2 separate regions of the Homo sapiens genome follow, and region 2 is linked to region 1. Evidence: fine-mapped expression QTL. A gene starts in region 1. The other region holds a variant in brackets. All regions are shown on one strand. Distances are from middle to middle.

Region 1 (4,397 bases):
TATCCTTTGGTTAATACAGAGTGAACTTGTCTACCCTCAGGTTCATTTAGCTTTAGGCTACAGCCTAGATTCTTAGACATCCGTCTATTTTACAGTATTAATTCAAGCTGTTTATAAATAACACATGACTAAATAGATGTTAAAGAAGACCTCCCTTGGGGCAGGCATTATTCCCACGTGCATGGCAACAGAGTTCGTAACAGGGCTTGGTGAACAGTATAATCTCAACACATTAACTGGGACCACATCGCCATTTGGCTATCAGAGCAGCCACACCGAGTGCATCATCTCTTGCACACCCTTTTAATTTAAGTACCTTGCTCAGTGCTAAGAAAAAAGGCACACTTGTTAAGGCAGGAGTAAGTGCGGATCTGCGAAACCTAAGCAAGCATATTTCACCAGCACCTCCTAGGGGCCACGTGTGGATATGAGGATGGGAGGTGGGGACTCGCACAGAACCTTTCCTTGAATTGTCAGTTTCACCTCTCCTACACACAAAAATCCACCCCGACTGCGCCGTCCACAATACCAGCTAGTTTGCTGAATTAGTTCAGCGACTCAAGGAGGCCTTACGAGGTTTAAATAAACTGCACAAAAGACACATTTGATCGCTCGAGAAAATAAACATTTAAAAAACTCAGTGGAAAGAAAGACTCCTAAAATATATCCTGTCCTTTAGGAGCAAAGCTTCGTTAGGACACCGAAGTACTCAGAAATAATAGGCACTTACTCTTCGGTTTACACACACACACACACACACACACACGGATTAGTTTATAAAGTTCCAGGATCCAGACCCGGTTAACACTGAAGTTGCTTTTTAGGGGTCTGCGCGCTCTCGCCTGGCTGCTGGGAAGGAGGGCTGGGAGGCGCTGAAGCGAGGGCAGATCTGAGTGTCTGTAGGAGTTGCTATTCCAAAAAAAATCATTACTCTCTAATTGTTCTGATTTTAGATCAGCAAAGCGTGCCGGGCGGTGGTGGAGAGACTGAGGGCGGACAAGGCGAGAGGGAACGAGCCGTCCACCCTTCGGAGAAGCCTAGGCGCCTTGTAAGTAATTCGCGAACAGTCGGGAGAACAAACAGCCAAGCGGCGCTGCAGTGGCCGCACTTGCGCGCGTCTCAATCCTGGGGGCTCTGCGCGCCCGCCCCAGTCCCTCGCCCCATTGACTCAGTGGCTTCTCCGGGCGCTGCAGCCTCCGCGGGGGGCTTCGAAGGGCCGAGGGGCTCCGGCAGAGAGGGAGTGGAGAGGGAGACGCGCCGGGACCGACGAACAATCCTGCCCCTGCGGCAAAGGTCTCTACCCGGCGCTGGCACCTCGCAGGCCCCTCGAGGAGCACGCAGGGCAAGCGGCCCAAGAGCGGGGGAACCGGGAAGTGTGTGGGGCTCCAGACGGAGTAGGAAGCTTTGCCCAAGGCCAGGCTGCAATCAGGCAGCCGCAACAGCCGGGCGCGGAGCTTCCCACCTGCTGCTGTCCCAGCTGGGCCGCAACTTCCTCCTCCCCGGCCCGGGCCCGACTCCCCGGCCGGGCTCCGAGGGTGGAGGGGGACGAGGCGGCGGCAGGTTCCCTCCGCTGGCAACGCCTCGCAGCATCCTCCCCTCCCCGCCGCGGTTCCCGGGGCCGGCCGCGCGGCCAGGCGCGCTGCGATTGGCCGGCAGCGGCCGGGGGCGGGGCCAGGAGAGCCGGTGTCGCACGGACCGCCTCAAAAGAGCCCAGGATATTGCAGAGCGCACTGGAGCCCTGGCCAGCGCGCAGCCTTCCCGGCGCCGGCGGGCTGGGTCTTGGGAATTCTGGTTTGCTTTGGCTCACTCGCTTTTTACAAACCACTGGATCTTACATGCCTCTGTACCCCCCACTTCCACTCCATGTCCCCATGCTCCTGCGCCAGCAACAGGTAAGGGCTGCTGTGTTTTCTTCCTTTTCGCTCGCTGCCGGTGTGTCCTGGGGAATGGACTCTGGCCGCCGTCCCCTACCCTACCCTGCCCCGCTGCTCCAGAGGTGCCCAGCTGTCACACTGCTGTAGCGCTCACCCACACTCCGGAGTCCCAGATCATGCCTATATAGTTTGTGTGCGCACCAGAACATCCCCAGAGCTAAAAATACTGAGACATGCTTGGAACAGTTGAGCAATAGAAACAGATTTCTCTGCAGCATCTGTTTGTGCTCATAACTTCCAATGCACCAGCTGTAGCGAGATACTGGGTTTGGAGGCAAGGGCGAGAGCGTCTGTGTTCGGTTCTCACTCTAAGTGGGGAAAAAAAGAAAGAAAACGTGGTTGCGGGTTTGGGGGTGCGTCTTGAGCCCTGGTCTTAAACCTTGGCAAAGCTTGGGACTCAGCACTATTCTTGATCCTTGGCTTTTTTTTTTTTTCGTCATTGCTTCAAGTATAGCTGTGAGTTTCAAACAGAGTGAGTGTCTCAAAGTTGCCTTCCTGAAAGAAGAGCGGGAGCCCGAGTTGGATTTGAGCCTGAGGATCGCAAAACTTTCACATTACATATCACTCTCCCCTAACCAATTTGTTATTTTCAGTAATAATGGTATTAATACCTGGCTTGAAGACAGTGTGGTTTTAGGAAAGCAAAATAGTCAAAACGACTTGATTCTGCAAAAAGATTGCATCATAGCGTGGATTCATCATGACAATTGGAAAAAAAATAGGGATAGGGAATGGGCAGTTTAATGTCTGTGTCTGGGTAAGGATATCATAGGATGATCACTAGGATAAAAGGCTGTGAATTCCGACGATTTTCATAAATTCAGATTTTACCTGTTAGGAAATAAGGTGTTATTTGAAAACCTCGGATATGCAAAGAAACCATATTGCGTTTTATCATTTGTTTTCTTTTCACATTAATAATCAATAGGCTGCCAGATTTCCTCTCGCCAACCAATGTTGTGTGTCTGCTGTACATTATCTGTACACTTGTTAGCGTTTTCCTGCTCACTTCCAAATGTTTCATTTCTATTTGCCATTATCTGGAAAAATCCTGGTGCTCAGAAGGGGTAAGAGATGTTAATTGAAGCATGGTGGAAAGGGTGAGGATAAGGTCAAGGCCATTTTACTTAGCTTCCTCCTCTCTCATATTTTAATGACACTTTATTTTTTAATGTTCTTGGTCTCCATAAGAAATATTTGATCTAAACTCATGTGAATTTTGCTTTTAAAAAAAATAAAAGAACACAGTCTTTCTACATCCTTTGGATTCCTGAGTTGTAGAATCTCTGGTTAGCTGTAGCGTCCTTGTATGACTTTTGCGTAGCCTGAAAGATTGAAAACAGCTACCTGCACAGATTAAGTGTTTCAGATTTTTTTAAGTGTATATTTTTATTTACCAAACATGTCTGTTTTTCAGCGTATGCAAATGCTGAGCAGTGCTACAAGCCAAGTGTCGTTGAGTATAAATGTTAGACAGGGGGCTCACACGTAGATAGATGGGTATCCCCCTCCCCTCCCCACTTCCCCCTCCTCCTCCCTCATGTTTATTGAGCTTCTAAGAGGCTGCTTTCCTAGCAGTTGTGCTCACATAGCAACATGTGCCCAGAGCACACTCAGGCTGTTCTATATGGCGTCAGCTGGGGAATAGCTGCTCTAAACACTCATTAGCAGACCTCTCTCTCAGCCCAGTACGTTTTCTTTTGCTATCTTTATTTCCTATCCTTAGAAACTTTCTTATTTATTGCACACCATGACCATATTACAGGACACATTTACTCTCATTTGATTTTTTTTTTTAGTTATTTATAAGCCATATTGGAAGTATTACCTATATAGTCAAAGCAATTTAGATCCCCCATTTGTACCATGTGATCTCCTTGACCTTACATTTATCCATAGCTCTTTCTCCTTTAACATCTACCTAAGTTTAAAACGCTGAACTATTTTTTTCCATTGCTTATGCTTAATTTTGGCTCAGCCTATAAATAGTCTTAACATGAACAGCACCACATGTAACCTCTCAATTTCCCAAAAATACTTTCTACATCATGGGTTATGGCCTGGATAAAAATGATTATTTGTGTCCATGAAATTTACATCTAGACCCTTAAATATTTTGGCTGGAAGGGAGATTTACACATTGTTCATCAAATCAAATTTCAATTCTCTGGATTTGTATCACTTAGTGTTCTCATCTACTCCTCATTGATTGCATCTCAAACATTATTTTGAATATATGCTTGAAATAAAGTTGCATGTAAGCCCTGTTTTTTTAATGATAGCTTTTCTCAGCTGCTCACGAATTGGTAATTGCTAGTGAGAGGACCGGGCAAGGAAGTTTTCTGCTTGCTTAAAGTCGCTCAGGCATGTGGGCAGGTTAACAGTAAAAGCAATTTTTACCATGAAATATTAAGACCGTTACCCCATCAAACCTTGACAGGTTCTAGACTTTAGCTATGTAAT
Region 2 (4,397 bases), 120 kb after region 1:
GAATATTACAACAACCACAAAAATTCTATAGACTTTTGTTCATGGGGAACCATCACCCTCCTGTTTCCCAAAGCAGGGAATTTAACTGAAAAAAAAAGTACATTGAGTAATATTAAGAAAACAAAAAAAGCATTTAAAATTGCAATATAATGTAGTATAAAATGAATATCTGAATCATGGGGAAGTATGCCATATAGAAGCTATTTTAGATGAGTAATCAGAAAAAAACTTTAGAGGAAGTAAGCAGCTTTTGTGTTAAATCTAAAAAGATATTGCTACTTTTTCACTATAATGGTTAGCATGTGATATGGTTTCGCTGTGTCCCCACCCAAATCTCGTCTTGAATTGTAGCTCCCATAATTCCCACATGTTGTGGGAGGGACCTGGTGGGAGATCACTGAATCTTGGGGGCAGTTTCCCCCATACTGTTCTCGTGGTGTCACAAGAGCTGATGGTTTTATAAGGGAAAACCCCTTTTGCTTGGCTGTCATTCTCTCTTTGCCTGCCACCATCCATGTAAGATGTGGCTTGCTCCTCCTTGCCTTCCACCTTGATTGTGAAGTCTCTTCAGCCATGTGGTACTGTGAGTCCATTAAACCCCTTTCCTTAATAAATTACCCAGTCTCAGGTATGTCTTTATTAGCAGCGTGAGAACAGACTAATACAGCATGTTAAACCAGTTCATCTTTTTAAAAAATAGAACACTGGCCAGGCACGGTGGCTCACACCTGTAACCCCAGCACTTTGGGAGGTCAAGGCAGGTGGATCACTTGAGATTAGGAGTTCAAGACCAGCCTGGCCAATGTGGGGAAACCCTGTCTCCACTAAAAGTACAAAAGTTAGCCAGGTGTGGTGGCACGTGCCTGTAATCCCAGCTACTCAGGAAGGCTGAGGCAGGAGAATCACTTGAACCCAGGAGGCAGAGGTTGCAGTGAGCCGAGATCATGCCACTACACTCCAGCCTGGGCAACAGAGAGAGACTCTGTCTCAAAAAAAAAAAAAAAGAAAAAGAAAAAAGAAAAAAAAGGAATACTTACTATTTCTAAGGATAAGGTGAGAAAGATCATCATATATACAGTTTATAGAAATAAAAAATTGGTATAAACTTTCTAAGAAGTACTTTTGCCATATTAGGAAACTTTTGGAACATGCATCAATTTAGTTATTTCACTTTAAGCAATCTAATAATAAATTCTTAGAAATTGGAATAAAGGTTTATATACTAAGATATTAATCACATTCCTTTTACCTGTTCCGCTGTCATAATGGGCATTTTTCAGTTCATCACACTCACCTCACTCTGGGCTGCCTCAGGGCCTTCGTTCTTGGTTTTCTCTCTTTGAAGTATTCTGACCCCAATACTTTCTTTCTTCAACTAAGTCCTATACATCCTTCACCTCTCACTCAGCTTAAATATTATTTTTCCAGAGCTGCATTTCTTCTATTTCCATAGAAAAATAGAAGTTTGGTTCTCTCTGCCTTCCCAGAAATACGTTTACATAGCACTCTCTGGTGCTCACTCTCAGCACATTTACGGATACATCAGGAGAGTCTCTCATCTCTGTAAACTCTAAGTTCTATGACAGCAGGAATTGTGTCTGTCTTTCTTACTGCATATCTAAGTGTCAAGGATGGTGCCTGTTGCAGAGCAAGCAGGTACAATTAGTAGGAAACAAGGAGATGCAGGGAAGGGGATACAAAATGGCGGATATGTGGGAAGAACAAGTCTGAAGACCTAATGCACAGTATGAAGACTACAGTAATAAAATTGTACTGGATTTTTGGATTCATGACTAATGAATAGATTTTTGCTGCTCTTGCCACAAAAACAACAAAGAAATGGGAAACTATGTGAGACGATGAACATGTTAACTTGCTCCACTATAGTAACATTTTTACAATCTTAATGTATCCCACAACATAATATTGTATACCTTAAAGATGCACAATAACATTTATTTTAAATACATTTGTTGAATAAATACACAGATAATATCAGTAGCAAAAGGTGAACAAGAAGCTAAAAATCTAAAAGGGAGGCCATTGTTTATAAATCACGGGAACGATATCTGGCCCAAACCTGATGGGGCTGTGTAAGTGATGATTCTTATACTTTTGGATTATTCTATCTCATTTCCACTCATCTTCCATGTTTTTATGACTCACTGATTAAAAGGAGATCACTATTTTAATATGTTTTGCAAATGAATACAAAGCATATATTGTTCCTTAGGGAGGGATATTAATGACAAATGAGATATACGGCTCTCCTCATATAACAAGGTAGGGGAAATATACAGAGATTTTTTAAAAAATGGACCAAGGGACCACAAGATGGAAAACAAAGATTGTTGGGTGTTTAAAAGTACCTTGAAGGATATCTGGCTCAATGAGCTCATCAAATTTATAACAAAAATAATAATAGTGAATATTAGCTTGACCTATGTCACAAGGACTGTACTAAGTGCTTTATCTCTCATGTATTTCTCATAATCATTTTGTTCCTGTTACTCCCAGTTTACAAATAAGGAAATTTAGGTGTAATGCCATTG[C/T]GTCACCATGCTTATGAAGCAACTTACCACCAACGAAGAAAAGTGACTTATCAAAAAGTACAGAGTTGGGTCATGACTATCAAAAACTCTGCTATGCTACTACTCACTGCAGTTTTTATTTTGGTTGGCTAGTGCGAGACAGTGCACACACACACACTTTCATATTTTCCAATAAAGTCATCTAATTTTTAAAACAATCTAACTTCAGCTACCCAAAATATACAACAGATCAATATGGAAAAGTATTAATACATTTATACTCTTTCAAAGATCCCATATTGTCAGGCTATTTGTAACTCTCACAGTTGTGACAGATAGAAGTTAAATAATTATTCATAATTAACTGACATGTTCATTCTTGTCCTCTCTTGCCAAATCTGTTCAATGTAATTAGATGATTGCTTGTGTTCCATTTTGCTCTGATGGGCTCCAATTCTGGCTGAGTTTCATGCATTGGAATCATATCCTGCAGTTATCATTGTTATTTTCTCCACTACATATCCCCCTGTAGAAGTGCACCATGCCAGGCATATCATTCTGTATATTTTACTCTGCTAATGACATCAAAGAATGTATCACTATCATTTTTCTGGCCCACCAAAATAACATTTACTCCTGTATCCTACATGTGATTAATATGGAAAGGATATGCTATGCTAGAATGCAGAACTCTCAAGTAAAGAACCCTGTGATAAATCTACTGTCTTTCCTGCAAACTACTGGAGTGCTTTTGGGTAAGTTGCTTTATTTCTCTAATTCTCAATTTACTTATCTATAAAATGAAACTAAAAATCCACAATGTCTTAGGGAATTTTTAGAGATTTGCATTTATAGTGCATGATAATTTATAAAAGAAAAGTTAAGATTCTTTTCCAAAGACAGGTTTTCCTTCGCAGAAATTGGGCAGCTGCTACCTTGCATACATTGCTAACATGGCTGAGTTTTAACGGAAGTATTTTTCTTACCATAATTCCTCTTTTGGTGTTAATAGGGGACTTCTAATTAGGTCTTAGTCTATTTGGGAAGGTTAATAGTAAAGTACTAAGCATTTATACAAACACAATCAAAGGTTGCTTGCAAGTGTAGGGAAAGAAGGCAACTATAAATATTCACTATTTTCTAGTTGAGTTTTTCCCTATTGACATTAGTTGTAAAAGATAGAATTTCATAATAGGAACAGGCGTGGAAGGAAAGGAACTATTTCAACTCATCAGAGTCACAGAGCCATCTCTGAAGTCCTCAAGTTTATACATGGGAAGTGCCAAAATTTGATCTTCAGTGTAAAATTTCTTCCATATTCTCTTGGATACACAGAGCAAATAGAGAAACTACAGCAGATAGACTTTTACAATGGCAAAATATGATGGAAAAGACTCTGGGCTCATCCTTCAGAGAAGCCTTCTGTGGCAGAGTAACTGTCTGTGGAAGGAAAAAGTAAATCATTTTTAAAAACCCCACTGCTCCAAAATCTGCTCTAATGCCACTGTCTTCAGGGCCAAGTATTCCATCTGGCAAGAGCAAGTCATGGAAAAGCACAAAGGTAATTTACCCAATTGGCCTGGGCAGAACATTGTTTCTTCAGTTATTTTTTGTGACTCTCCCTTCAGAGTGTGATTCAGACAGTTCTGCACCAAGATCAGTGGCTGTGCAGAGTTCAAATAGGTGAAAATACAGCTCTGGATGAGTAGCACTGTATTTTTTCTCAGTTCAGTCTCTCGTTCTTCATTGCTCAGCTCAGAGTTTCTCTCTCTGTCTTCATTGCTCAACTTCGTGTCCCTGCTTCCCAACAGGAGAACCCTATCTAAAATATTTATTTTTAAAAAATCTTGATATCATCCCATCATA

What was found. PIP is the estimated chance that this variant, and not a neighbour inherited with it, causes the effect.
Region 2: its variant is the best candidate, but not a certain one, in a credible set for the expression of KCNJ2 in whole blood (TOPMed, PIP 0.59).

What each region holds. Positions count from the first base shown.
Region 1 is chr17:70,167,810-70,172,206 of GRCh38, forward strand. KCNJ2 (potassium inwardly rectifying channel subfamily J member 2) reads left to right here and starts at 1,723. Exons shown (of 2, transcript NM_000891.3): 1 at 1,723-1,892. It overlaps KCNJ2-AS1 (KCNJ2 antisense RNA 1), which reads right to left and starts at 1,593. Exons shown (of 1, transcript NR_036534.1): 1 at 1-1,593. RefSeq lists a silencer at 1,319-1,778.
Region 2 is chr17:70,286,178-70,290,574 of GRCh38, forward strand. No RefSeq gene overlaps it. Among named protein-coding and RNA genes, the nearest start is that of KCNJ2, 120 kb to the left of the region's middle. The variant C/T (reference allele first, on the strand shown) is at 2,553.